Homo sapiens: one gene and its partners. The protein of the gene in region 1 interacts with the protein of each later gene in a pairwise test. Each region holds a gene or a part of one and is shown in the gene's direction. Other genes may lie near its edges.

What was found.
Region 2: the proteins of CPNE7 (region 1) and SAXO1 interact in binary tests that used the Homo sapiens proteins (3 or more experiments, as listed by UniProt).
Region 3: the proteins of CPNE7 (region 1) and ZFP90 interact in binary tests that used the Homo sapiens proteins (3 or more experiments, as listed by UniProt).
Region 4: the proteins of CPNE7 (region 1) and PKLR interact in binary tests that used the Homo sapiens proteins (3 or more experiments, as listed by UniProt).

Annotation. Positions count from the first base shown.
Region 1 is NC_000016.10:89,571,217-89,578,773, forward strand, and holds the start of CPNE7 (copine-7), read left to right. Parts: upstream 1-4,541; 5' UTR 4,542-4,681; coding exon 4,682-4,855; intron 4,856-6,310; coding exon of another isoform or gene 6,311-6,322; coding exon 6,323-6,505; intron 6,506-7,557. UniProt on the Homo sapiens protein: Calcium-dependent phospholipid-binding protein that may play a role in calcium-mediated intracellular processes.
Region 2 is NC_000009.12:18,939,198-18,946,219, reverse strand, and holds part of SAXO1 (stabilizer of axonemal microtubules 1), read left to right. Parts: intron 1-4,380; coding exon 4,381-4,583; intron 4,584-7,022. UniProt on the Homo sapiens protein: May play a role in the regulation of cilium length. Stabilizes microtubules at low temperature.
Region 3 is NC_000016.10:68,542,284-68,549,305, forward strand, and holds part of ZFP90 (zinc finger protein 90 homolog), read left to right. Parts: intron 1-7,022.
Region 4 is NC_000001.11:155,298,417-155,305,868, reverse strand, and holds the start of PKLR (pyruvate kinase PKLR), read left to right. Parts: upstream 1-4,430; 5' UTR 4,431-4,473; coding exon 4,474-4,573; intron 4,574-4,916; exon of another isoform or gene 4,917-4,981; coding exon of another isoform or gene 4,982-4,988; intron 4,989-5,588; coding exon 5,589-5,771; intron 5,772-7,452. UniProt on the Homo sapiens protein: Pyruvate kinase that catalyzes the conversion of phosphoenolpyruvate to pyruvate with the synthesis of ATP, and which plays a key role in glycolysis.

The DNA of each region.
Region 1 (7,557 bases):
AGGAGGTGAGCGGGGCACGGGAGGAGGTGAGCGGGGCACGGGAGGAGGTGAGCGGGGACGGGAGGAGGTGAGCGGGGACGGGAGGAGGTGAGTGGGTACAGGCGGTCCGGGGGCCGGGGAGGTGGTCCAGGGGCCCAGGGCCACTGCTGGTCAGCAGGCTTGGCAGTCAGAAAGAAGAGAGGACCCAGGAGTGGGGACAGTGGGACCAGGAGCCCAAGTCCTGGGGACTCTGGGATGGCTGGTGCCTGAGTCTGAGCACAGAGGGGTCCTGGCTCAGGAGGGCCAAAGGGGGTGAGGAAGAGCCAGTCCCGGACGGTGTCCCCAGCGTGCAGTCCTGGGCAGGGACCCTGACCCCTGGGTCTCACTGCACAGGGGCTGTGAAGTCTGGGCCCCTCCACAGTAAGTGCTCCTGAGGGTCTGCTGGGAACATTCTGGGCAAGGGCAGCAAAGCCATCAAGCCACGCCGGGGGCTGGACGGGCGAAGGAAGGCGTGAGGGCTGGGTTCTGAGCGGGGTTCCAGTTCCACCCCAGGGCCTGGACGGGCCGAGGAAGGTGTGAGCGCTGGCTTCTGAGCTGGGTTCTGGGTTCCAGCTCCACCCCTGCTGTGTGGTCTCAGCCACCACAACGCCCTCTCTGAGCCATGTCTCCCGCCAGCAGTGGTGTCTCCTGCTGGGCAGAGATGCTGGGGGCTGGGATGGTCTGCTCCTGGCTGCATGCAGACAAGGGGCAGGAGGGATGGCGGCCCGGGGCTGCACGCGAGAACGCGCCTGGAGGAGAAGGGAGTCTCGAAGAAGGGGGTCTCATCCACACCCAGAAGACGGTGTTGGGGGAAGGAAGTGGAGGAAGGGGACCCCCTGGTTGGAACATATGTTGCCCTGGGGTGGCCTGTGTCTGCGCTTGTGTGTCTTGGGTGCCTGGCGTGTCTGCGTGTGGGCTGTCTCTCCATGAGTACGTGCACGTGTCTGCGGTATTTGGCACACGTGTGTGGCGTGTGCTCGTGCGTGCCTGCATGTGCTGAGTGTGGTGGAGGAGAAAGTCCCCCTAATCAGTCCCCAGGTCTCTGAGGCTGTAACAAGGTCAGCGAGGAACTGAGACTGGCCAGGTGTGTTGTCTCAGCCAACAGCCGGCGTGGCCGCCTCTGGGCATGGTTGATTTCTCAAATAAGATCAGCATCAGATCCTGCAGGAAGACAATCTGATCCAGACAGGTTGCAGATGTTCTAAGATAAAATAACCTTTCTTTAGGAGGAAAGAAAAGAAGAGGGTAGGTTTGCAACCAGATTAAAAAAAGCAGCACCCATCCGGACACGTGGAGAGCTGTTTCCTGTTAAACAATCCTGTTAGTAACCCCCACCCTCTGCAATTTCTTGTTTTGAGGCAACTTCTGGGACAATCTCTCCACATGAAGGGCAGGTTCGAGGACCCTGCATTCAGGGGTGGGGACCGAGCCCCGGACCGGTCCACTGGAGCACACCAGCTGTGTGCTCAGGACGGCCAGGGAGGAGGCCATGGACTCTGGACCTGGCTCAGGGACAAAGGGCTGTCAGAGTGTGGGGGAGAGCACTGGCTCCAGGGGATGTGCCTCAAGGCAGTAGCAGTGGGCCTGGGGTCTGCCGGGAACCTCTGGAGGCCCTGGACAGGTTTCCCTGCTCCCGGTTGGCCTCGTGGCCAGTGTTACTGAAATGGGAGATGGGGACTCTGTGACTGATGGAGATGACACCCTCGAGGCAGATCCAGGACCAGAGAGCAGCCACCAGAGCTGCGTTTCATTCGCTGATCCGCACTTCATTCATCCGCCTGGAGTTTGTTGTCTTAGACTCTGTGTTGGGACCTGTACTGGTGTTAACTCAGGCCTCGGTGGACTCCTGGTCCAGGGTGGATGAGGTCATGGGCAGCACAGCCCTGGACAGTGGAACTGATGTTGTGGACGTGTGGGCCGGGAGCCCAGGGAGGGATGTTGGGTGGCGGTTCAGACTGGGCTGGGCTTTGCAGGGTAGGTAGGGGTCGGGTGGTGGGAGAGGCTGAGGCAGAGGCACTTGGGCCTGAAAAGTATCTGAGTCCTGGATGCCAGGAAGCCACACAGGGCACTTGGGCACAGATATGTCATTGCTGCTCCTAAAATTGATCATGTGTAAGCCTCTGGATAGCCGTGGGGGTCGGCACTAATCAGAGGGTCTCATAGGTAACCCAGTGATGAGGGGATCCAGGCTAACCATTGAATGCAATATTGTCAATAAGAAAGAAAAAAGCAGGTTACAGAACAGAAACCATCTGCACCAACACCTATGGTGCTCCAACCGTGCCAGGCAGGGTCCCGGGCCTGGGCCGCGTGATGAGCCTGGCGTGGGGTCCCGGGCCTGGCCCGCGTGATGAGCCTGGCGTGCAGATACTGAAGAGTCCTCTCAAGTGTGGGAAGGGCTCTGAGAGTTAGGCACCTTTTTTTTTTTTTTGACAATTAAAAGAAATTTGCACATAAAAAAAAAAACCTGGAGGGTTAGATGTGGGGAGGTGATGGGCTGCTTTGGGGTCTGGAAATTTGTTTTTACTCCCTATCTGCATTGTCTAATATTTCAACAAGGAACACGGTTATTATTCCTGCGTGTATGTGTGTGGATCTCATTTCCTGTGTCTGGCCCTGCAGGGAAAGCTGGGAGGGGGAGCCTTGGAAAGATGGCTCCACATGGCCTGCGGGGTCCTTCCATTGTACCTGGGCCTACTGCGGGCTGATCCCTGAGCAGGGGCAGGCAGCGTCCAGACACCAGTGCCACAGGGGAATCGGCTTTTCCTTCTGTGGTTTCTCTCCATTAGAGCAGGCTGCAGTCAGGGCTGTCAGTCAGGAGACAGCAAGCCGGCCGAGGGCTGTGGCTGGAGATCCCAAATCGCCCTGGGCTTCAGAGACTCAAATTCCCAAACTCTGTGATCTTTCTTGGCTCCCTGCGTCCTTTGCTTGGAAGCCATCTGTTATTTTGCCAGGGTGCCGCTATGTGACAGCCAAGGGCTGAACTGGGGTGTTCCAGGTTTAAGCCGGGTACCCCTCAGACAGCCTGGTGGACCTCAGGCCTCACGCCACACTGCAGACGAGCAAACCTCAGGGCGGTGGTGAGGAGCTTTCGGGTGAGGTCAAGGCAGGAAGCGGAGCTTGGTCTGGGGAAAACTGTCCCAGGGCTGCTGGAACCGAGCGGGAGGCACGGCCTGCAGGAGCTGCCTGGGCGCCCGCACCCTTTGCCTGAATTTCGCATCCTTTTCCCATGGAAGTGGTTGGGGACCGAGGATGTGGCCTCCCGGCAGCCTGGAAGGCTGGGCTGAGGAGGACACAGGGCCGGGAAGGCCCAGACTGGTCCCTAGAGAGCGGGACTGGCCTCTGCCCACTGCGGGCTTCAGGGAGGAGGCGCAGAGGCCGGGGAGACAGCAGATGGGGCCCTGCAGGCCTCGCTGCGCCCTGACCTGTTCCTCGCCTCTTTAGCCAACCTCCCGGGAAGGCAGGAGCCGGTCTCCATGGCCTCTCCCGGCCCTGCCAGCCCCGTGGGGCCTCCCCGCCCTGCAGCCGCGCCCGGCGCCATCCCGCCGTCCGACCGCGAGGGGACGCCGCTGGCCGCGTTCCTCCTCCCAGGCCGAGGCTGCCTGTGCTGCCTCCCGCCGGCGGGGCCCTGAGCCTCCTCGCCCTGTCGGCGGCGGTCCCCTCTGACCGCAGGGTCTTCTTCTAGAGTCCTGATCGCCGAGGCTGAGCGGAGGCGCCCGGTCTTCCCGCCTCTTCAGTCTTAATGTCTCCCTCACCCTCGCCCCCCACCCCCGTGGCTTTTGGCGAGGTCCGTGCCCTATTTTTAGGCAGAAATCGGCAAAAAGAGTGGACTGCGAGGTGGTTTCTGTCCCCGCCGACGCCTCCTCTTCCGCTGCTCCCTCCCCCGGGACCGGTGATGGGGAAGGTGGGGGAGTGAGTTCAGGGCGGAGCGGGCCCACCCCCCACGGAACCCAGGCCTGCCCCGCCCCGCCCCGGCCTCGGGGGACTGGTGTGGACCGTGCCCCGCGGACCCCTCGGAATCAGACCGCGATTCAGCCCTCGGCCCCCCGGGACGGTCCTTCCAGCCCCAGACGAGCGCGGCGCCTGCACACAACAGGCGCCCACTAAATGCTTGTTGATGGAGGTGGCGAGTACCCGAAACCAGCGGAGCCTGGAAATGGGATCCTAGAGATCCGGGAAGGGCGCGGGGATCTGGTGCCAAGCTGGGGTCCCCCTTTTGCCTCCCCTAGTGTCTGCCTGGGTCCGAACCCGGGCTCAGGCCCCGCGCAGCTCGGAGCCTCCAGCCCGGAGCCGGTCCCTGGGCCGGGGATGCGCACAGCCGGGGAGGGCGCGCCCGACCTGACCCCAAAGCTATCAGTTGGGGGGGGGGTCCCCGGGGAATTAGAAGCTGTCTCCTCCCGGGCATCTCCGAGGGGCACCCCTGCCTCTGCCCCCTGCCCTCATTTCCCGCCGCGCCCCTCCCCGGCCCCGCCCCCCGGCCGCGCCCCACCCCCTGCAGTCCCCGCGCGGCGGCCGCCCGAGCCACGTGCGCCCGCGCCCGGCAGGCGTTCAGGGAAGCGCGGCCACGCCTGGGCCGGCCACCATTTCCCGGGCGCCGCGGCGGCGCCGACTCGCGGGCAGCGGCCCCTCAGTGCGCCCAGCCGGGCCCCCGAACGCCGGGAGCATGAGCGCGGGCTCGGAGCGCGGGGCGGCGGCAACCCCCGGGGGTTTGCCCGCGCCCTGCGCCTCGAAGGTGGAGCTGCGGCTCAGCTGCCGGCACCTGCTGGACCGCGACCCGCTCACCAAGTCCGACCCCAGCGTGGCGTTGCTGCAGCAGGCGCAGGGCCAGTGGGTGCAGGTAGGGCCGGGGCGTGGGAGGCCGAGAGGCCACCGGGCCGGGGCTGGCGCCGAGCTGGGGATGCGGAGACCAGAGCGGGCGCGCTGAGGCCAGTGGGGCGCAAGGCGGGGCCCCCCGGAGCTGGGGCTCAGCTCGGGGTCAGGGTTGGGGGTTACCAGGTCTGGGGGTGGGGTGTCCAGAGCTGTGGGGAGAGGCTGGGCTGGAGGAGGTGGCGGCGAGCGGGGTTCGGAGGAGAGAGGGGGGTGCCCCGCAGTGAGGGGTGCGGCCCAGGGTTCGGGGAGGGGGCCCCGGGCCAGAGTGAAGCGCCCAGGCATGAGGCGCGGGCAGGGGGCTCGACCAAGAGGCGCAAGGAGATTGAGGGGTGAGGGGCGCCGGCCGACGGGGGGCGGGAGGCTGGGCGGGAGCAGGCCGGCGAGGGAGCGCGCGCTGGGGTGCGGACCTCCAGGCGTCCGGGGCTCCCGCTCCAACGTGGGTCTCAAGCGAACCCGCTGTGATCGCGGTTGGGGTCCGAAGGGGCACGGGGCCGGCGCCAGACGGGCGCTTCCTCGGTCACCATCTCGCGTGAAACGCGTGGCTTCACCTCGAAAGGGCGAGAAACGCATGGCGCGAAGCCGCAGCGGGCGGAGGAGCCGGAACTCGAACCCCAGTCCGCGCGGGGCGCCAGCGCTTTTCCCCGGCGCAGGGGTCTCTCCAGGCTCCAGCGCGGGCCCGGGCGGCTGCTCGGGCGGTGGAAGGGACGCGGTCACCCGGTGGCGTCTCCGGTCATCCACCTTGAGGGTGAAGGGCCTGCCCCGCCCTCACCGCCTGTCCCCAGGGTTCCGGCTGCCCCCGGAGGCCCCGTGCCCGCCCCTCACAGCCTGAGCCCACCCTTCACATCCCGAGCCCACCATCCCCACGGAGGCCTCGTGCCCGCACCCTCAGAGCGTGAGCTGTACGGGTGGCCCATGTTTGCCCTTGGTTTGAGGTGCAGGATTTTTCAGGATTCTGAAATGAGTAGCCTACTGGCCCAGCTGGGTCTTGTCCTTACGGGGCAGTTGGACCAGGGAACTGCATGGGATGGGAGAGGCTGGTGAGCCCATGGTACCCCAGCCAGGAGGGAGGGCCCCCCTGTACCCTACGCCCCCTCCCCACTCAGCTGGTGCTGGGGAGCGGCCTGCACTTTAGGGCTGCCCAGCCCAGGGTGTGAATCTGATCTCGCCCCCGACTCAGCGTGTCATTCTCGTCCTCTGTGAGCCTCACTTTCCCCATCTGTGATCTGAGGGTGGAGCAGACAGTGGTGGCCAGGGGTGACCCCCAGGGTGGCCCTCGGGATTGTGGTCCCATGGACAGAGAGCAGGCAGGAGGTCTTCCCAGGGTATGAGTCCTCCTGAGGTACCTGGGCGTGGGTGAGCGGCAGAGGGGAGATGGAGGTCTGGAGCCCGGGGTGGAAGCCTCTGGAGTGGGGTCGGCTCACAGGTGCACTTGCAGGTGGGCAGAACCGAGGTGGTCCGGAGCAGCCTGCATCCCGTGTTCTCCAAGGTCTTCACGGTGGACTACTACTTCGAGGAGGTGCAGAGGCTGCGCTTTGAGGTGTACGACACGCATGGGCCCAGCGGCTTCAGCTGTCAGGAGGACGATTTCCTGGGGGGCATGGAGTGCACCCTGGGGCAGGTGGGTGCCCCGTCCCCTCGGAGGGAGGAGGACGGTTGGCGTGGGGGCCACAGCCGATTCAAGGCTGATGTACCAGCACCGCAGGGACCCTGCTGGGGTGGCCAACCTGGCTCTGCCCCCTCCTCAGCTCCTCCTGAACAGTCATTATTAGATTAAAATATACATGTAATTTTGAACTGGGTAATACATTCGTATGTTTTAAAGCCTGAAGGTATAAAAGGCTGTGGAGCGCCTCCATCCTGCCCCATCCAGCTGCTGCCAGGTCCCTGGACATTGTCCAGAGAGAGATTTTCACAGGAGCAAACCAGCCTATCACTTTTCCTCTTTTTTCTTTTTTTTCTTTTTCTTTTTTTTTTTTTTTGAGATGTAGTCTCGCTCTGTCACCCAGGCTGGAGTGCAGTGGCGTGATCTCGGCTCACTGCAACCTCCACCTCCTGGGTTCAAGCGATTCTCCTGCCTCAGCCTCCTGAGTAGCTGGGATTACAGGCACCCGCCACCACGCCCGGCTAATTTTTGTATTTTCAGTAGAGACGGGGTTTCACCATGTTGGTCAGGCTGCTCTTGAAATCCTGACCTCGTGATCCGCCTGCCTTGTCCTCCCAAAGTGCTGGGATTACAGGCGTGAGCCACGGTGCCCAGCCCACTTTTCCTCTTTTTTCAAAAATACACAAATTACGTTCCCTGTTCTGCATCCTGCGTTTTCACTTCCACGACGTGCAGCAGCCCCTCCATATCAGCACCTAAAAGTCTCCTGGTGGCCGGCCGTGGTGGCTCACACCTGTGATCCCAGCACTGTGGGAGGCCGAGGCGGGCAGATCACTTGAGGTCAGGAGTTCGAGACCAGCCTGGCCAACATGCTGAAACCTCATCTCTACAAAAAGTACAATAATTAGCCGGGCATGGTGGCATGTGCCTGTAATCCCAGCTACTCTGGAGGCTGAGGCAGGAGAATCGGTTGAACCCGGGAGGCAGAGGTTGCAGTGAGTGGAGATCTCACCACTGCACTCCAGCCTGAGTGACAGATTGAGACTCTGTCTCAAAAAAAAAAAAAA
Region 2 (7,022 bases), on another chromosome or scaffold:
ACCGCAACTTCCTCCTCCCGAGTTCAAGCGATTCTCCTGCCTCAGCCTCCCGAGTAGTTAGGATTACAGGTGTGTCCCACCACATCCAGCTAATTTTGTATTTTTAGTAGAGATGGGGTTTCTCCATGTTGGTCAGGCTGGTCTCATACTCCTGACATCTGGTGATCCGCCTGCCTTGGCCTCCCAAAGTGCTGGGATTACAAGCATGGGCCACCGTGCCCGGCCAGCCTTCTGGTTTTTGTAGTCAAGAAAAGGTGATTACCTAAAAGATCTGCCTTTTAGCTGCCCTCCCTTGCACAGACTGGAGCTGACCTTCAGGCTGGAAGCTTTGAATCTTAAATAGTTAATGGAAAATTAAGCAATGAAGCCTCACACAGTGCCATTTTCTGCTTCCACCTGTTGGCTCTCCCCAGAATCTACCTTTTTAGAGCTTTAAAGTCATTTGAAATAGTTTGCCTAGGGTTTATATGAAGTGGTGACAGATATTTGCCTCAGCCTTAGTGGGAGTTGAGGGACTCAGAGGGCAGAGGAGAAGACAGGTGCTATGTAACTTGGATTCTGGAGTGCATGGGCTTGGAATCCCATCTGTTATAGTGAAGGTAAGGAGGACTCTGTGTCCCATAAGGACCAGGGGCATGAATCAAACCCTGTGATTCAGCCAAGGATCTTTTGCAGCACAATGGGATGGACTCCCCAAGCTGCCTAGGATGGGAGAATAGTTTCTCTAGAAGGGTGCCTTTTGACATTGGGAAGTTTGAGAATAGCATATAGAAGTGACAAAGTCAATCAAATCAACTGACAAAGAGCAGAACCCCATAGAAGACATGGAGAAAAGATCATGAGGAGTGGTATCACGGAAGTCAAGGGAGAGAGTATTGAAAAATTGAGTGAGAGGATGGATGCTATGAACAACCACAGTGGGATAAGGTTGAGAAGCAGCGGTTGGGTCTGGAAAACAAGGTGATGCTTGGAGTATCCAGGAGTGAGGGGAATCAGATCTGATGGGTGGGACATGAGGAGAGGAAGGCAAGTCTGTACTTGTAGACAACACTTTCTGGAAGACAGAAGGGAAAACTGGAGGAGAATGGAGCTCAGTGAGGATAGTGTCTTGTTTTACTCTTTACCTTTAAAGATGGGAGGTAACACTCAATGGAGAAAGGAGGCAGTAGGGAGGAAGAGAGAAAAGCATGGCCTAGGAGATGGTCTGCAGATGAGATTCCCGAGAAAGAGGGCAGGGGTGAGAGAGGTTGGCTTTGGCCAAGAGGAGGAACTCCTTTTAAGATGGATTCCATTTTAATATAATTGATTACTTGGACACACTAATATATCTTCAAGTTTGCATAAATAAACATTAAAAACAGGTTTAAAAAAAGTGTTGCATGGCCCTTTGTCATGGTGAAAATCTTCATTTCCCACTGCCAGGCTCAGGACCCTAGCTCACTGTTACGTTATTTCCTCTTTCCTTTTGTCAGAGAGTTGTCAAACACCTTTCTTCAGCTTTGCTAAATGATTTGAAGTCAAGTTGTTATGACTTCCCCAGCAGGACCACTCCAACTTTTTACTTAACTCTGAGTTTAACTCTTGGCCTTCCCTACTCTATAACTTTTATAGCTACTTACCTAAAAGAAACTTACTTCTCTGACCAGTTTCTTTTTCTTGGTTCATGTCACATGTGCACAGAGACTGGGAAATGTACCACAGAAAGAGAGGGGAGATCCAGTGTTCTTAAAAAGAAAAGCTAGTTAATTGGAGCAATTCTGGGGAGACTAAAATATAGACTTTTCTTTTACGTGAATTTAAAGGCTGTAAGATTATGTGTGATTGGGGACATGCAGTTATGTTGCGGTTAATGACAGGTTTCAGTGAATGTTCTCAACATAAAAACATAATGAGGAAACACATAAATTCTGATTAAATTCACTCCTAAGCCACAGTAACTATGTTTGGGTAGGTTATAAAAAAGTCAAACTTTAAAATTTTTCTTCTCTTCAGAAGTAGATACCGCTTCCCCCCACCCCCCATAATCATTTGCCTTAGTTATGGCTGATCAATAAATTAAACCATAGAGGAACACTTACAAAGGAACTTAAATTTTATACTGGAAAAGGCGATTGGCTTTTGTCTTTGGGAAACCAATTTCAGAATAGTCTGTGAACTGGTGAATTTGGTTTTGGGCTTTTGTCTGCTCTTTTCCGGTAGAAGCCGTGGGAGATGCGCAATAAGCGTGCTTTAGTTTTCAAGAGTCTGGCAGCCTTTGAAGGGAGGTTTCTGCGGCATCCCTGAGAGGAAGCTGGTCCTCTTGGTCAGAGTAACTGCAGAAGAGGCTGCTATGGACTCTGTGTGCAGGGTCCCTGAGAGTGGCAGCCTCACAACTGGAAAGCATCCCTAGATGCTCTGAGGTTGGGTGGGCTCAGCACGGCAGCTCAGGCGCCCAGCTTTGTTCCTCACTGCATGCCCTTGGTACCTCCTGATACTCCTTGGAAATGAATAGGGTGTAGGCTTAGGTAGCCATCACTGAGCACAGGCTTTTATAAGGGTTTAGGAATGTGTGGTCTCAGGCTGCCTTGAAACCTGTCCATCCCTTCTGAGAGTGAGGAGAGCTCAACTTCCCTTGGGAGCACTCCCTTTAGAATGTACACTTTCTGACCAAGAGTCCCTTTCCACTCAGCTGGTTTTCAGATGGAGTTTTCTGGGCATTTTCATTTGTCTTTGTAGCCTAAGGACTTACCCTCTTAGTTCCCTGCTACAATTGGTTTAGTGCTGAATAGACACCAGGGTGTAGTACTTGCTCACTGAGAACAGCAGAAGTAGGAGCTGACCCTTGGCTGCTTGTTCAGTCCATTCCCTCCATAAGCCCCGATATGTACAGTCAGCTTCCAGACACTTCAGGCTAACAGCAGGGCCCCTAGGAAGGGAGCCCAGGCTGAATGTCCTATAACTGCCGCTAAGATATATTTTTAAATCTACCCAGAGGGTGTTAGGGGAGTTCAACTGAAGCATCTCCCATTTCCTCCTTAGAGCCCTAGAGAGACTAATTCTCCTGCTTCCTAACTTCCTTCTCCCATCCCACTAAGCATTTTCAGGACCCGGTTCGGGTTTACTGACAATCATGTGTATAATTCACGCAAGACAGGTTACAGTGGAGCGTGTTACCTTTGCTAGTCAAGCATGGCTGAGTAATGCTGCTCCAGATTTTGGCCAGGAAGTGGGTTTTATTGGTGTTTGGGCCTAACGTTTTCCTGTCCGGAAACCTTCCCCTTCCCTTGACAGGGATGTTCTGGCAAGCACCATCAGGAAAAATCTACCTTCCCTTTGTCCAGTTGAATAAATGGGTTCCAGGCAAAAACAGTTTGTTGTGTAAAACAGACACCCTTCAGAGGGAAATGTTAGCATTGAGAGGTGGGAAGTTGCGAGTGCCCTGGAGGGCAACACAAGTCCGAGCTAAGCCCTGGCTCCTTAGGGCGGTTCCTGGTGGGCATTGCAGTGAGCATCTGGGCCTTTTTATCTGGGATGCTTTGGGGAGGGACTGCTTCCTGTTTAGTGAAGACCATTATACTTTTTCGATCCTATTGTTTTGGTACTCCCTGAAACAATGGGGGCGCAGACACCAGATAGCAGAGAAATGAAGGAGTCAGGGTTTCCAGTTATTTCACTGTTTTCCTCTTCTGGGTTTTCTGTAGGCTAAGTAGAGGAAAGAGATAAACATTAGCAGGAGAAGCTTTTGGGAACACAGAGAAGGTGGCAGCGGCACCTGAAAGGAAGATACCTCCGCAGTGAAGGGGTTGGGTGGAAGGAAGGTGGAGAGCGCAGCAGTAGAAACGGTGGCATTGTGGTTGGAGTGCAGGGTTTTCAGGTGGGGTGGGGATCGTGAGAGACAAGGGTGAGTCAGGCAGGAGCCAGGTCCAGAAAGGCTTATAAATTATGCCAGGAAGTTGAATTTTACCTGGAAGAGTTTTAAACTGGGGAAAGCCATCTGATTTCCATTTAGAGAGTTTATTCTGGCCACATTATGGTGATTGAATAGAAGTGGTAGGAATGAAGGAGGAAGCTCAGGTGGCAGGCTGTTAGTGAGAAATTGTCAGGATCTGGACCAAGGGGAAAGAAAAACCAATGAGGTGGAGGGGCACTGGTGGTGATAGACTCTGGGGCCGTGAGGAAAGGAGGTCAAAGATGAATACAGGTGTCTGAGTTGGGTGAGAAGGAATTGATGGTACCCTTCTCAAAAGTGGGAAATAGAGGAGAAACAGTTCGGGGGAGGAGGGAAGGCAGGTAGAGTAGAACAGGACTTCTCAGCAAATGTTTGTAGAGTTGGGTTGAGCAGAAAACATAAGCCTTATCGCAAGCCAAGGACCCCAACAGCATGCACTTGCTTCCTTACAGGAGAGATTTTGGGCCTCACAAAGTGGCACCAGTGAAGGTCCACCAGTATGACCAGTTCGTCCCGAGTGAAGAGAATATGGATTTGCTCACGACGTATAAGAAAGATTACAATCCCTACCCTGTCTGTCGAGTGGACCCCATCAAACCTCGGGACAGTAAATATCCATGTAGCGACAAGATGGAGTGTTTGCCTACTTATAAAGGTGGGAGAGCACAGAGGGGCAGATTGGGGGAAAGACAGGCTGAGCCTGTGTGCGGGCCAGGAAATGTGTTTTATGTGCATACTCAGTTAGTGCAAGAGTTGGCAGACTACTTCCTACGGGCCAGATCTGGCCAGCAGCCTGTTTTTGTATAGCTGGAGAGCTAAGAAGAGTTAAGCATTTTTTTTTAATAATTGAAAAACAAATCAAAAGGATATAATTTGAGGACTGTGAAAATGATATAAAATTGAAAATTCAGTGTTCATGTTTTATTGGAACGCAGCCATATTCATTCATTTACGCAGTATCGATGGCTACTTTTTTTTTTAGCATAGTAGCAAAGTTGAGTAGTTGTTGACAGAGACACTACAGTCTGTGAGGCATAAGACACTTAATACCTGGCTCTTATACAAAATATCTGCCAACCCCTGCCTTAGCTTGCAGTTTGAATCCTATATTGGGGGAAGCATTTCAAGTTCAGGCTAAGTTAGTTTCTACCACTGATTAAGTGATTGATTCATTCACATGTTTAAAAAATATATCAAAATGTAACATACATATGGAAAAGTATACAAATTATAATTATAGAGATCAATAAATTTGCACTGAACAAATCCATATAAACAGTACCCAGATCAAGAGATAAAACATTACTACTCCATTTCTGTTACCCTCCCCAATGAGAATATAACCATTATTTTAACCTTTAATACTTTAAATTAGTTTCGCCAGTTTTGAACTTTATATAAATAGGATTGCTTCTTTCTTTATTGAGTATCTATTGATATTACCTATGAGGTGTGGTCCTAGAAACTGAAGGAAGCATAATGGCCTGCCCTTGACTTTCTAGCCTAGTGGAGAGACAAGATACGTGGTCATATGTGTTTTGCTAGCAGACAGCCACTCTATGGAGCTCAGCTGCAAAGACTGAGACCATGAGACTGGAGACCAGGTTTGTAATCAATAACTCATGCTTATGATACCAACCTTTGCCTTGCCCTAGGAGGACAAGCTGAACAGTTCACGGACCTCTAAATGCTGTGAATAGAGAGGGCCACTTTTATTTAGTCAAGCCAAGCATTTAGGGTGAAGAGGGTGGTGGAGGTAGGGAGGTTGGAGGGATGTGAGCTCCTAGAAGGGCCTCTAATTCTGTCATCCTGGAGGACCCTGTGCTTAGTTGAGTTTCTCTGATTCTTCCAGGAACTGAAGACTGGATTGGCGTGGGCCTCTTCAGCAACCTGGGCTCTGCCCTTTTATTTTCTTTAGCTTCTTCCTCTAACACTCCCCCATAGATAGCTACCTTTGGTCAAGCCACCTTTTATCAGCAGTACAAGAACTGACTAATATTCTGAATGTTATCATACCCTGAAATGGCCCCACCTCTGAAGTCTTTGTGCACATCGGCATCCTGTCCTCTGGGCTTGTCCTCTTATCTCCTCCCACCACGACAGTCCTTGGCCTTTTTGGGACCTCCAGTCCATTGACGTCTTAATCCTCCCTCTTACCACCAGCCGCTCCTGTGTCTGTCCCTCCCCATGGAGTCTCTACTTCATGGCCTATCTTTGGAGCCCAGCTCCTACTGATAGCCGAGAGTCCCTCTCTCTTCAGCCCTTTTGCTGTTTCCTCCTAGCAAAGCCCTAATCCTGTTTTCCCCATGTCTACACCTGGGCACACACCTGAGCATATCTCCAGTCTTGTCAGCTTTTACTCATTTTCCACAGAAAGGGAGCAGAGCAGTCTTCTATACATGGCAATCTGATCTGACCACTCCTTTGTATAAAACTCCTCAGATAATCATTTGATAAAATCATTATTTTGTCTAATCATATCATTTTATCAAACGATAAAATCATTATTTTATCAAATCATATTATTTTATCAAATCATATGATCCTATTACGATAAAAACCCAAACCTTTTCTGCCTCCTCTGATGCCTTGGAAGTCCTGGTGTCTTCTAAGCCCCTCTGCTCCAGCCTCAGGGCCTTCTTTCAGGTCCCTTCCTACATTTCTTTTCTGCTTCAGGGCATTTGTTTAGCACATGTGATGCCTTCTATATAGAATCCTTCTGCTTCCTTAATCTAGCACTTATCCTTTCAGCTAGCAGCTGAAAGATCACATTCTGAGCCCTTCCGCCATGTCAGGCTGGATGCTATATGGGTGCCTTGCACTCCCCTGTCTTATCATGCATTGTGTACTTTTAATGCTTCCTTTAATGGCCAGGCTGTAACCTCCAAGGGGCAGGGATCTGTTTGTCTTTTTCTTTCCCAATTACCCTCTCACAGCAGGCACCACACAGGAGTCCATACAACCAGGTGTATGACCATGGGTAGGGTGTTGGGGGGCACTTTTGCCTCTACTGAATGCATTCTTCTCCTTTTTAATCCAGTGTTTACAAGAAGACCAGAAATAAGGCAGCACAGACATTGAGCTAGTGGGATAG
Region 3 (7,022 bases), about 21 Mb from region 1:
CACCTTTGAATAGGAGCAGAGTCTAAGCAGGTGAAAACAAAAGGGGACTGTAATCCCAGCACTTTGGGAGGCGGAGGCAAGCGGATCACTTGAGGTCAGGAGTTCGAGACCAGCCTGGCCAACATGGTGAAACCCTGTTTCCACTAAAAATACAAAAATTAGCTAGCCATGGTGACGGGCGCCTGTAGTCCCAGCTACTAGGGAGGCTGAGGCAGGAGAATCGCTTGAACCTGGGAGGTGGAGGTTGCAGTGAACCGAGATCCTGCCACTGCACTCCAGCCTGGGTGACAGAGTGAGACTCCATCTCAAAAAAACCAACCCCAAAAAACAAAAGGGAGAGGGTAGAGCTGATTGATTTGGTGAATCGGGAGTTGGGAGGCAAGAAGATGGCGGTGCATGTTCATTAAAGCATTTTCTTTGTAACACCAGCTGTGGGCTGCTGGCAGTGGGTAGAGGAGAATAGAAGGAGTTTGGACTTGTTCTTTTTGGCCTTGTAACTCGTTCATTCATCATTCATTCATCTACTCATTCACCAGGTAGTCATTGAGCCCTATGATGTGTCAGGCACTTTTCTAGGCAGTTGGGATAACTTCAGTGAACAAAATTAGGACCCTGCTCTCAAGGAGCTTACATTCTAGAGAGGACAGACAGAAGAATTCAGTAAATAAATAAATTGTATGGTATCCTAGAAGGCAGTAGTATCTCAAGAGGGAAAAAAGGTAGAGAAAGGTAAGGGGGTCTGAGTGGGGAGGTGGGAGGTTTGTAGTCGGGGTGCAATTTAAAATGATGTGGTCAGGGTAAGCCTTATCCTTATTGAGATGGTGACACCTGAGCAGACTTGAAGGCGATGAGGGAGTAGATGTGTAGGGGAAGAGTGCTCTGGGCAGAGGGAACAGCCTAGCGGCAAGATGTATGTCTGGTGTATTCAAGGAGCAGCAAAGAGGCCAGTGTAGCTTGAGCTGGTGATTTGGGGCAGGGAACTAATACAACTTCATAGATTTTTTAAAAGATTGCCATGAATGATGAATCCTAGGATAAAAAGTTTGATATTATATTTGATAATAGTTCCTTTAGAGAGGTGTTTTGATGAGTGGGACCTTTCCCCTGAACATAGTTAACAAATTCCTGAACTGGCTCCACCTGAAGCGGGATGGGACTAGGAGCAGAGATGGAGGAGCCGGGATACCCATTTAGAATGTTTACGTAGATATAGCTGTGTATTTATAGGATTGTTAGTAGCAATGTCTATGTAAACATTATACATCCTTATTTGCCTTTTTTTCTTTTTTTTTTTTTGAGACAGAGTCTTGCTCTGTCGCCAGGCTAGAGTGCAGTGGCGTGATCTTGGCTCACCGCAACCTCTGCCTCCCTGATTCAAGCTATTTTCCTGCCTCAGTCTCCCGAGTAGCTGGGATTACAGGCATGTGTCACCACGCCCAGCTAATTTTTGTATTTTTGGTACAGACAGGGTTTCACCATGTTGACCAGGATGGTCTCGATCTCCTGACCTCATGATCTGCCTGTCTCAGCCTCCCAAAGTGCTGGGATTATAGGCGTGAGCCACTGTGTCTGGCCTGCCCTTTTTTTTTTTTTTTTCGAGGTAGAGTCTTGCTCTATCAGTGTGCAGTGTGCAATGTTGTCTCGCTGCAACCTCTGCCTCCCAGGTTCAAGCAATTCTCCTGCCTCAGCCTCCCAAGTAGCTGGGATTACAGGTGTGCACCACCACGCCCGGCTAATTTTTTGTATTTTTACTAGAGATGGGGTTTCACTATGTTGGCCAGACTGGTCTTGAACTCCTGACCTCAAGTGATCCACCCACCTTGGCCTCCCAAAATGCTGGGATTACAGGTGTGAGCCACCACACTGGCTGGCCTCTTTTTCATAACATGTGTACTACATTTTTAGTTAGGAAACAAAAAAGGCATTTGCCATTCTTAAAGTTGAAGCCACCAGAGCAGTAAGAAATGAGAGAAGTTTTAAGCTAGGTGTGGTGGCACACACACCTATAGTCCCAGCCACTTGGGAGGCTGAGGTGAGAGGATCACTTAAGCTCAGGAGTTTGAGGCTACAGTGAGCTATGATTGCACTACTGCACTCCAGCCTGGGCAGCAGAGAGACATCCCATCTCAAAACAAACAAACAAAAAAACAGAAAAGAGAAATGAGGGAAGTTTTATAAGGAAAATGCTTCATATGGAGAACCAGATCTCTTCATGTTAGAGAAGAGATTTCCTTGATAGAGAGGAAATGGGGAGGAGGGGTCAGGGCCTGGTCTCTGTTGACTCTGGATTACAGAAGCTCTGGTTAGATCATCAGGGTGAACAGACCCAGCAAAACCTGGCTTAGGTCACCCAAACTTAGACAAGATGCTTCTGGGGCCACCAGGGGAAACCAGACCACTTGCTGAATCAGGTCAGGATGTTTGTAGTCAAGGATGTCCGAGCTCCCTCTGTCCAGAGGTTCCCCTTCTCAGCTTCAGCCTGAGCTGACAGGAGGTGGTCTCTAAGTCTCAGCTGAGATTGCACCTTCCCGTGTAACGTTAGGTACCGCTCCTGTGTGTGCCCATAGCACCTGTGAACACCTTTTTTTTTTTTTTTTTTTTTTTTTTTTTTTTTTTTTGAGATGGAGTCTCATTCTGTTGCGCTGAAGTGCAGTGGCGTGATTTCGGCTCACTACAACCTCCGCCTCCCGGGTTCAAGCGATTCTCCCGCCTCAGCCTCCAGAGTAGCTGGGACTACAGGCACGTGCCACCATGCCCAGCTAATTTTTTGTATTTTTAGTAGAGATGGGGTTTCGTCATGTTATCCAGGATGGTTTCGATCTCCTGACCTCATGATCCGCCCGCCTCGGCCGCCCAAAGTGCTGGGATTACAGGCATGAGCCACCGCGCCCGGCCCATGCACTCCTATTATAATATTCTTACATGGAATGGAGTGGTGCATTTACCCAGCCTTCTCTGTACCAGGTTTTGTACTCTTTCAGAGTAAGGCCATTTGACCCCTCCCTTCAACCCCTTGCCCAGACTAAACACGAGGTAACATGATCATTCAGAATCACTTAAGCCCAAGCAGCAATTTTATACTTTCTGCTACTAATATAGCACAAATTATATTTTCCAGTCACAATGAGCCTATTTTATTTTCTGATAAAATGATTACATGAAACAATGTGATTTGCACTGAACAGTTTTTAAAAAATTTGTCTTTAGGATGTTAGGATGTCAAAACCTGTTCCTCTAAGAACTGTTTCAAGCCAGGCGCAGTGGCTCACGCCTGTAATCCCAGCACTTTGGGAGGCCGAGGCAGGTGGATCACGAGGTCAGGAGATCGAGACCATCCTGGCTAACATGGTGAAACCCCGTCTCTAATAAAAATACAAAAAAATTAGCCAGGCATGGTGGCCGGTGCCTGTAGTCCCAGCTACTCGGGAGGCTGAGGCAGAAGAATGGCATGAACCTGGGAGGCGGAGCTTTTAGTGAGCAGAGATCACGCCACTGCACTCCAACCTAGGTGACTGAGCGAGACTCCGTCTCAAAAAATAACTGTTTCAAAAATAAGATTCTTTTCCTTACTTTTCCGTGTTGTATTACTTTTGTTAAAGTATATCTTATGGCCGGGTACAGTGGCTCACACCTGTAATCCCAGCACTTTGGGAGGCCGAGACAGGCGAATTGCATGAGCCCAGGAGTTCGAAACCAACCTGGGCCACATAGTGAAACCCCATCTCTACTAAAAATACAAAAATTAGCCAGGTGTGGAGGCACACGCCTGTAATCCCAGCTACTTGGGAGGCTGAGACATGAGAATTGCTTGAGCCCGGGAGGTGGAGGTTGCAGTGAGCTGAGATTGCACCATTGCACTCCAGCCTGGGCGACACAGCAAGACTCTGACTCAAAACAAAGTATATTTTATTAAAGTATGTGAGCATATATAATATTAGAGACTTTTTACCTTTGATATAATCTTTGTCAGTTTTTATAAATTTTGATAAAATACACATAAGACAATCTTAAGTGTACAGTTCAGTGGTATTAAATACATTCATATGTAATGCAGCCATCACCACTACCCATCTTCAAAATTCTTCATCTTGTAAAACTGAAAACTCTACAATCCATTAAACAATAACTTTTCATTCTTTCTTCTTTCAGCCCGTGCAACTACCATTCTGCTTTCTATCTCTATGATTTTAACTACTCTATCTCATATAAGTGGAATCAAACAGTATGTTTTGTTTTGTTTTGTTTTTTATTAAGACGGATTCTTGCTCTGTCACCCAGGCTGGAGTGAGTGGTGCAATCTCGGCTCACTGCATCCTCAGCCTCCTGGGTTCAGGCGGTTCTGTCTCAGCCTCCTGAGAACTGGGACTACAGGCATGCGCCACCACGCCCAGCTAATTTTTGTGTTTTTAGTAGAGCCAGGGATTCATCATGTTGGCCAGGCTGGTCTCGAACTCCAGACCTCAAGTGATCTGCCCACCTCAGCCTCCCAAAGTGCTGGGATTAGAGGCGTGAGCCACCACGTCTGGCCAAAATCACACAGTATATCTTTTTGTGGCTGGCTTATTTCACTTATTATAATGTCTTCAAGATTCATCTAAGTCGTAGCATATATCAGAACTTTCTTTTAAAGGCTGAATACAGTGCTTTAAAATAAAAGCCTTTCTAAGGCTAAATACAATTCCATTTTGCTTATCCATTCATCCATTGATAGACACTTGCTTTGTTTACATGTTTAGCTATTGTGAATAATGCTGCTATGGCACTGAACATGAACATGAGGCATTGAACTATTGAACGTGGGGGTACAGATATCTCTTTGAGACCTGACTTTAAATTCTTTTGGTTATATACCCAGAGAGAAATTGCGGGGTCATACGGTAATTTTTTTCCGGAACCACCATACTGTTTCCATAGCAGCTGTATCTTTTTACATTCTTAACAGTGCACAAAGGGTTCTAATTTATCCACATCCCCCCAACCCTTGTTATTTTCTGTTTTATCTTGATAGTAGCCATCCTAACCAGTGTGAGGTGATATCTCATTGTAGTTTTGATTTGCATTTCTCTAATAATTAGTGTTCTTGAACATCTTTGTGTATCTTCTTTGGAGAAATGTTTATTCAAGTTCCTGGCACATTTTTGAATTGTTTTTTGTTGGATTTTTAGGAGTTCTCTATATATTCTGGGTATTACTTGCTTAATAATCTAGACTTTTTAATAGAAAAAAGTCATTTATGATCCCTCTTCCTTAGGACCTCTGTATTTGTTTTGGTGAATTTTCTTTTCTCCTTATGCATATTTTTCCCCTTAAACATTTTTAATTACAATGTATTTTAAATTTCATATAAATTTTATGAGGATTATTTTTGTTGTTGTTTAAAATCAGTTTTAATGACTATATTATATTGCTTTGTATGAATGTACCAAAATTTATTTAGCCATTTCTCAGAGAACATTTAGGTTGTTTCTGAAATTTTTACTATTATACATAATGCTGGGATAAAATTCCACTTGGTTGTAATACATAAGTTTTTCAAAATACAGTTGATCTCTCTTTTTTTTTTTTTTTTGAGACAGAGTTTTGCTCTTGTTGCCCAGGCTAGAGGGCAATCTCAGCTCACTGCAACCTCTGCCTCCTGGGTTCAAGCGATTCTCCTGCCTCAGTCTTCCAAGTAGCTGGGATTACAGGCGTGTACCACCATGTCTGGCTAGTTTTGATTTTTTAGTAGAGATGGAGTTTCACCATGTCGGTCAGGCTGGTCTCGAACTTCTGACCTCAAGTGATCCACCTGCCTCAGCCTCCCAAAGTGCTGGGATTACAGGTGTGAGCCACCGTGTCCGGCCCAGTTGATCATTTTTTAATATCTGTATTACTAAGGGAAATAGCCACCAGAGAGAAAGCACTCTCTTGGATGGGTTTTGGTGTCATGCTTATCCTTAATTTGTAGAAACATTCAGATTGCTTTTCACCTTTTTCTGTCTTTTGAAAGAATTTACCTATAAAACATTTAGACTCAGGATTTTTATAGACAAGATGTTTTGGCAACAATTTTCTCTATTTCCTCCTCAATTATAAAGGTTTCTGCTTTTTTGTGTAAACATTGGTAGTTTAGAATTTAAAAGTTTTTTGTTAAGATTTTTTGCATTTCTTAACACACTAGTGTGTATATTTCACTGTTCTGTTTATCCTCCTTTTTTTTTTTTTTTTTTTTTTTTTTTTTTATTGAGACGGAGTTTCGCTCTTATTGCCCAGGCTGGAGTGCAATGGCGCAATCTCGGCTCACCGCTACCTCCGCTTCCCAGGTTCAAGCAATTCTCCTGCCTCAGCCTCCTGAGTAGCTGGGATTACAGGCATGCACCTCCACACCCGGCTAATTTTGTATTTTTAGTAGAGATGGGGTTTCTCCATGTTGGTCAGGCTGGTCTCGAACTCCCGACCTCAGGTGATTCGCCCGCCTCGGCCTCCCAAAGTGCTGGGATTACAGGCATGAGCCACTGTGCCCAGCCTTATCCTCCTATCTTTAAGTTCATCTTTTAAAAATTTCTTCTTACTCGATTTATCAGAGGTTTTTCTATTTGGCTGGTGCTTAAGAGGAACCAGCCTTAGATTTGGCTGTTAATGCCATCGTTTTTCTGTTTGCCTCTGTTTTTTATAATCCAAGAATTTAATTCACTAACCCATGTGTTTTTTTTTAATCCTCGAAACAACTCCTCATTTTCCTGCATTGAGAATTACCCAGATTCTGTATCCATTCACTCAGCAGACGTGTTTGGAATGCTTGCTCTATGCCAGGCAGTGGTTCTTAACCAGGGTCATGCTTCAGAACCAGTCAGGAAGTGGTGCCTGCTTCCTCTGGGGTGGTGACAAGGCTTCAGTGAGGAAATGTGGTGAGAGTGCACGTAAATGACTGAGTTTAGTGTTTGCCTAGCAGCGAGTGTTCAAGAAATCTGAGCTGTTGCTCTTTGATAATGAACCACCTGAGGAGCTTTTAAAAGATGCTGGGCAAGACCCTCCATGCATGG
Region 4 (7,452 bases), on another chromosome or scaffold:
GTTCTGCACCAGCCTGGACAACGTGGTGAAACTCCATCTCTACAGAAAATACCAAAAAAAAAAAAAAAAAAATTAGCTGGGCATTGTGGTGCGTGCCTGTAGTCCCGACTCCTTGGGACGTTGAGGTGGGAGGATCACCTGAGCCCAGGAGATTGAGACTGCAGTGAGCAGAGATCATGATACTGCATTCCAGCCTGGGCTACAGAGGAAGGCCCTGTATCAAAAACAAAGTAATGCCAGACCATCCTTAAAGTCCCATGTCTCTGCCAACACCACAAGCACAAGGCCTGAATCCCCAGTCCCTGAAGTCTGCCACATTCTCTGTGGGTACAAATTTTGTCTCTCTTTATTTGTTGTGTCTTCTATATACAGAAAGATGAGGCCCCATGCTCATTTCCCTCCGGAAGTCCTCTCTACTATCTCTCTCTTTCTTTTCCAACTCCAGAGTCAGAGACTTCTCCCTTTCCCACCCACTGAAACAGTCCCAAGGGGCAGGCATGGAGCTTAGTGGTTACAGCTCGGGCTCTGGAGCTCCACTATCTGGGCCTGAATCCCAGCTCCACTCCTGACAAGACTTTTTGCATCAGACAAGTGTATTCGGTAGGGTTTCTTCAGGAAATAAAGAATTCTCTTAAATGGGATAATTTGAAGGTGTTTCATAACAGGATTATACAAAGGAATGGGCAGGGTGTTGGTAAACCACAACGGATAGTGCATTACCCCAGATCTAATAACAGTGGGCTTTGTTACCCCTGTAAGGTCCAAGGGATAGGGAGAGAATGGTCCCTAGAATGGCAACTGGGGAGGTAAATGCTCAACCTCACCCTCTCCATCTCATCTCCTATGGGTGCCACTCTCCAAACCCTACAGACGCCACTGTGCAAAGCCGTCAGCCTCCTGGCCCCACAGCAGAGTGGAAAAGGAACACACCTTGCTACGGCCCAGTTCCCTCATCTGTAAAACAGCCTGTTGATCCTACCTTCTTTCTAGGTTGTCACAATGATAAAAGGAGATGGTGTCCATGAGGCATGAATGCTGTTCCAGCACACAGGAAGTGTGCTCGATGAACAGCTCCAACTGTCTGACTATGGATTTTAATGATTAACTGGCTTCTCAAATTTAGCCTGTCAAAACAGAAAGCTTGAATTTCCCCCTACTTCAAACCTATTTCTTCCGTAGTCTCAGTTAGTGGCGCTACCATCTACCCAACTGCTCAAGCCAGACTCCTCGACACTAGAAGCCGCCCTCTCCACGGCTGTTTTGCCGTTCCACTCTGCTGGCTCTTCTCCAAAATGCATCTCCAAGCCGTCCCCCTCTCTTCGTCTTCACTGCCAACATGCTAGTCCATCACCTACCACCTAGATTCTTCCTAAGCCCGCAGTAGTTCTGCCTGTACCTACCATCTGTTCTTTTTTTTTTTTTTTTTTTTTTTTTGAGACGCAGTTTTGCTCTTGTTGCCCAGGCTGGTGTGCAATGGCATGATCTCGGCTCACTGCAACCTCTGCCTCCCGGATTCAAGTGATTCTCCTGCCTCAGCCTCCCAAGTAGCTGGGATTACAGGCACGCACCACCACACCTGGCTAATTTTTTGTGTTTTTAGTAGAGACGAGGTTTTACCGTGTTAGCCAGGCTGGTCTCAAACTCCTGACCTCAGGTGATCCGCCTGCCTTGGCCTCCCAAAGTGCTGGGATTACAGACGTGAGCCACCGCTCCCGGCTACCATCTATTCTTTACCCAGCAGCGGGAGGGACCTAAACCATCAGTTGGATCATGTCCATCCCCTGGGTAAACCCACCACATTACAAGATCCTGCTCAGGTCCCCTATCTTCACTATGGGCCACGACCCTGCACTCCAGGCACTCAGCCTCATTGCAGCTCTTTGTCTCCTTGGCACCAAGCTTTTTCTTCCTCAGAGCCTTGGCATATATTATTTCTGCCCCCGCCCCGCCGCCATGGAAAACCCCTTTCTCCATTTGCCCCCACCGGTTCCTTCTCATCCTTCAAATTTCAGCTTCAAAATAATCACTTCAAAGAGGCCTTCCTCAACCATCTCATCTTGTCTAAAATATATCCTCTAGGTCAGGCATGGTGGCGTGCACCTGTAATCCCAGCTACTCAGGAAGCTGAGGCATGAGAATTGCTTGAACCCAGGAGGCAGAGGTGGCAGTGAGCTGAGATCGTGCCACTGCACTCCAGCCTAGGTGACAAGAGTGAAACTCCGCTTCCAAAAAAATAAATAAATAAAATAAAATACACCCTCTCTCTTCTCCCACTGGCTTCTGTGTTCCAGCACCCTGATCCACTACTTAGTAGCACTTGCAAGGTTTGTAGTTACATATTTATTTCTCTGATACTTGTTGATAGTCTGTCTCCCCACTATACTGTAAATCTCACAGAGGGCAAAGGCCCTGTCTGTTTTGCTCACTACTGTGTCCTTAGGGCCTGATACAGCGTAGGTGCTCGATAAAGATTGGACAGTGGGGAATGGGCAAATGGTAACTAATGAATGCTATGATGATGATGATGCTATCAAAGCCCTTCCAGAGAATCCCACCAGTTAGTATCAGCTGAACCCACAGCTAGTGTCACACCAAAAGTGGCATCAGGGCAGCACTCACAAAGGATGCCCCAAACCATCCCAAGATGGGGCTGGTTGGGATTCCAGTGAATGAAGCACTAAATGCCAGGGCAATCAGGCCAAAGCATACATTAGGGGAACTTACCTACAGAACAGCTACTGCACATCCTTGCTGTGGACAATGGGACAAAGGGTGTTCTACCCAGGTATGTTCTCAAGGAGGGGTTCGGGGTATGGTGTTTATAGGAGTGTTTAAGAAATTTGAAGCCAGTACTATGGCTCACACTTGTAATCCTGGCATTTTGGGAGACCAAGGCAGGAGGACCACTTGAGCATAGGTGTTCAAGACCAACCTGGGCAACAGAGTGACACCAGTCTCTACAAAAATAAAAAGTCAGCACCTGTGGAAAGAAAGGAAAAAAATATTTTTAATAAATAAAAATTTAAAAAGTAGCCAGGCATGGTGGTGCACACCTGTAGTACTGGCTACTTGGGAGGCTGAGGTGGGAGGATCGTTGGAGCCCAGGAAGTCAAGGCTACAGTGAGCCATGATCACACGAGTGCACTCCAGCCAGGGTGACAGAGTGAGACCCTTTAAAAAAAAAAGAAAGAAAACAAGGCTGGGCATGATGGCTCACACCTGTAATCCCACCAGTTTGAGAGGCCGAGGCTGGTGGATACTTGAGGCCAGGAGTTGGAGACCAGCCTGGACAACATGGTGAAACCCCATCTTTACTAAAAATACAAAAATTAGGCCAGGCACAGTGGCTCACACCTGTAATCCCAGCACTTTGGGAAGCTGTGGCGGGCAGATCACCTGAGGTCAGGAGTTCGAGACCAGCCTGACCAACATGGTGAAACCCCGTCTCTACTAAAAATACAAAAATTAGCCAGGCGTGGTGGTGCATGCCTGTAATCCCAGCTACTCAGGAGGCTGAGACAGGATAATCGCTTGAACCCAGGAGGCAGAAGTTGCAGTGAGCCAAGATCACGCCACTGCACTCCAACCTGGGCAACAGAGTCAGACTCAGTCTCAAAAAAAAAAAAAAAAAGAAAAGAAAAGAAAAAAGAAAAACAAAATTAGCTGGGTGTGGTGGTGCACGTCTGTAATCCCAGCTACTCGGTAGGCTGAGGCAGGAGGATCGCAGAGGTTGCAATGAACTGAGATTGCGCCACTGCACTCCAGCCTGGGCGACAGAGTGAGACTCTGTGAAAAAAAAAAGAAAAAAAAGAAAAAAGAAAAAGAAAAAAGGAAGGAAGGGAGGGAGGAAAGAAAATTTCCCTGGGGGTAGGAGTCTATAAGTTTAGCAAAATAGTCGATCTTTCAGTGTTTCCAGCAACAACCTAATCAAGTTTATCAGTGTCTGAGAATGTTCAAGGTACCATCTTGGGTTCAAACATGTAGGCGAAAACATGCAGCTGGCCAGGTTACAGAGTGGTGAAGGCACTCTGCATTTCTTGGTTGAGACAGAGAAAAAAAGTGGTCAGAACTGGGTAACCCTCCCCCCACCATATTATCACAGTGATCCCTTTTGTCTTTCTTCAGGCTCCAGCCCCACCCTACAGCCCCTGCTCCCTGGATTCACTAGAGCTAACTTCAGTAAAGTACAAAGAAAATGGGGCCATATGACTGGCCAAAAAAAAAATATCTATTCACGTGGATGACCAGATAGTATGAATGGATTGAAAATTTATCAGGAAAAAAGGATGAGAGGAAATGCCAGGAGATGAGGGCAGAGAGCAGGCCGTTCTGGGGGAGGGATTCTGTGGGGACAGGGTGGCCTACTGGGTGTGCCCCTTTTCTCTTCTCTGTCTCCCTTAGATAAGACCAGCAGTTTTGTCATCCTCTCCCTCTCATTCCATGGTCCCGCAGCCCCAGGCCCACACTGAAAGCATGTCGATCCAGGAGAACATATCATCCCTGCAGCTTCGGTCATGGGTCTCTAAGTCCCAAAGAGACTTAGCAAAGTCCATCCTGATTGGGGCTCCAGGAGGTAAGAAGGGGAGACAGAAGCCATGGAACATAGGAGGAAAATGAGGGTGAAAACTAGGAGCCAGGGTGGAGGGCATAAATGATCCACATCAGCCACTGGCTAGGTGGGTTTTGGAGAGGAACGTACGTTCTTCAGAGCCTCCCGTGTGTTAAATTATGGACCCTGGCCTGGGTCTTTTCCAGGCCCTATAGGCAGGCCAGAGCCACAGCATGTAAGCCACGGGGCACTCCCGTGGTTCCTGGACTCTGGCCCCTGGCATACAGGGCTTCCAATGGAACAGGAGACAGTGGTGACACTTTAACCAGTCTGCAGAACTGATCCCCAGCCCAGCTGGGCCTCATGCCTCTGACAACCCAACAGTGTGGAGCAGACCCACAGAGAGGGAGACCCAGAGAGGTGTGCAGTGGCATGGAAGGTGCGGCTGGAATCGGGGGCTCCTCTGAACTGGGATGGGTCAAGCTACAGGGACCTCTGTGTCTGTAGCAGCTTTGAGAAGCCTGGGGAGACTCAGAGGATGGGGTGGGGAAGCCAGCCAGTAGCCAGGGGTTGGAAGGGAGAAAACAGAGACCTTTGGAGCAGGAACTGGGTGATTCTGGGTCTGCATAGGGTGAGGCTGCTGGGGACTAGACATCAAGGGGTGGTGGGGTTGAGGGTCATCAGTAGCTGCAGGTCGGGGGGTCCTGGGTTGTGCGGGGTCAGTATAACTGAGTGGTCAAGAACTTGGGCTAGAGTTAGTCAGACCTAGATTTGAATCCTAGCTGATCCATACTTAGAAGCTGTATAATATTGGACCATTTATTTCCTGTTTCTCAGCCTCTGTTTCTTTATCCATAAAATTGGATAATTATAGAACATTTAACAGTACCTGCTTTATAGGATCCTTGTGACATAATAAAATAATATATGCATGATGCCCAGCTCATAAGAAGGGAAGGAACAGAGGGTATGCTGAGAGACGAAGGCATGGGGAGGAAGGGCAGGTGACATGCAGTCCCTGAGCCCCCTTCTACCACAGGGCCAGCGGGGTATCTGCGGCGGGCCAGTGTGGCCCAACTGACCCAGGAGCTGGGCACTGCCTTCTTCCAGCAGCAGCAGCTGCCAGCTGCTATGGCAGACACCTTCCTGGAACACCTCTGCCTACTGGACATTGACTCCGAGCCCGTGGCTGCTCGCAGTACCAGCATCATTGCCACCATCGGTAAGCACTCCCATCCCCCTGCAGCCACACAGGGCCTATTGGTATTTCTTGAGGTGCTTCTTCATCTTTTGTCTCCTTTGAGACTTCTCCATGTTTGACACAGTCATTCATTTAACAAAAATTTGTTGAGCATATAGTAGACAAGATTTTGGGCCCTGGGAGTAGATCAGTGAAAAAAACAGACAAAAATCCCTACCCTTGGGGAGCTGACAGTCTAGCTGAGTATGACAATAAATAGTAAGCACAATAAATTATTTAAAATAAGTAAATTATTTATTCCGTTAGAAAGTGAGGCCGGGCATGGTGGCTCATGCCTGTAATCGCAGCATGTTGGGAGGCCCAGGTGGGCAGATCACTTGAGGTCAGGAGTTCGAGACTAGCCTGACCAACATGGAGAAACCCCGTCTCTACTAAAAATACAAAATTAGCCGGGCATGGTGGTGCGTGCCTGCAATCCCAGCTACTCAGGAGGCTGAGGCAGGAGAATCGCTTGAACCCAGGAGGCGGAGACTGTGGTGAGCCGAGATCACACCATTGCATTCCAGCCTGGGCAACAGGAGAAAAACTCCATCTCACAAAAAAAAAAAAAAAAAAAAAAAAAAAAAAGTGGGCTGGGCTCAGTGGCTCATGCCTGTAATCCCAGCACTTTAGGAGGCCAAGGTTGGCAGATCGCTTGAGCCCAGGAGTTTGAGACCAGTCTGGGTAAATGGCAAAACCCATCTCTACAAAAAATACAAAACTTAGTTGAGTGTGGTGGTGCATGCCTGTAGTCCCAGCTACTCAGGAGGCTGAGGTGGGAGGATCACTTAAGCCCAGGAGGTCACGGCTGCAGTGAGTCATGATCGAGCCACTGTACTCCAGCCTAGGTGACAGACGAGACCCTAGAGAGAAAGAGAGAAAGAAAGAAAGAAGGAAAGAAAGAAAGAAAGAGAGAGAGAAAGAAGGAAGGAAGGAAGGAGGGAGGGAGGGAGGGAAGGAAGGAAGGAAAGAAAGCAAGCAGGCAAGAAAGAAAGAAAGAAAAGAAAGAAGGAAGGAAGGAAGGAAGGAAAGAAAGAAAGAAAGAGAAAGAAAGAAAGAAAGAAAGAAAGAAAGAAAGAAAGAAAGAAAGAAAGAAAGAAAGAAAGAAAGAAAGAAAGAAAGAAAGGAGTGAAAGTTGGCCGGGCATGGTGGCTCTTGCCTATAATCCCAGCACTTTGGGAGGCTGAGGCAGGTGGATCACCTGAGGTCAGGGGTCCGAGACCAGCCTGGCTAATGTGGTGAAACTCTGTTTCTACTAAAAATACAAAAAATTAGCCAGGCATGGTGGCATGTGCCTATAATCCCAGCTACTCGGGAGGCTGAGGCAGGGGAATCGCTTGAACCCGGGAGACAGAGATTGCAGTGAGCCAAGATCACGCCATTGCACTCCAGTTTGGGCAACAAGAGCGAAACTCTGTTTGTTTGTTTGTTTGTTTTTAAAAAAAGAAAAAAAAGCTGGGCGCGGTGGCTCACGCCTGTAATCCCAGCACTTTGGGAGGCCGAGGCGGGCGGATCACCTGAGGTCAGGAGTTCGAGACCAGCCTCAACATGGAGAAACCCCGTCTCTACTAAAAATACAAAAAATTATCCGGGCATGGTGGTGCATGCCTGTAATCCCAGCTACTCAGGAGGCTAAGGCAGGAGAATTGCTTGAACCTGGGAG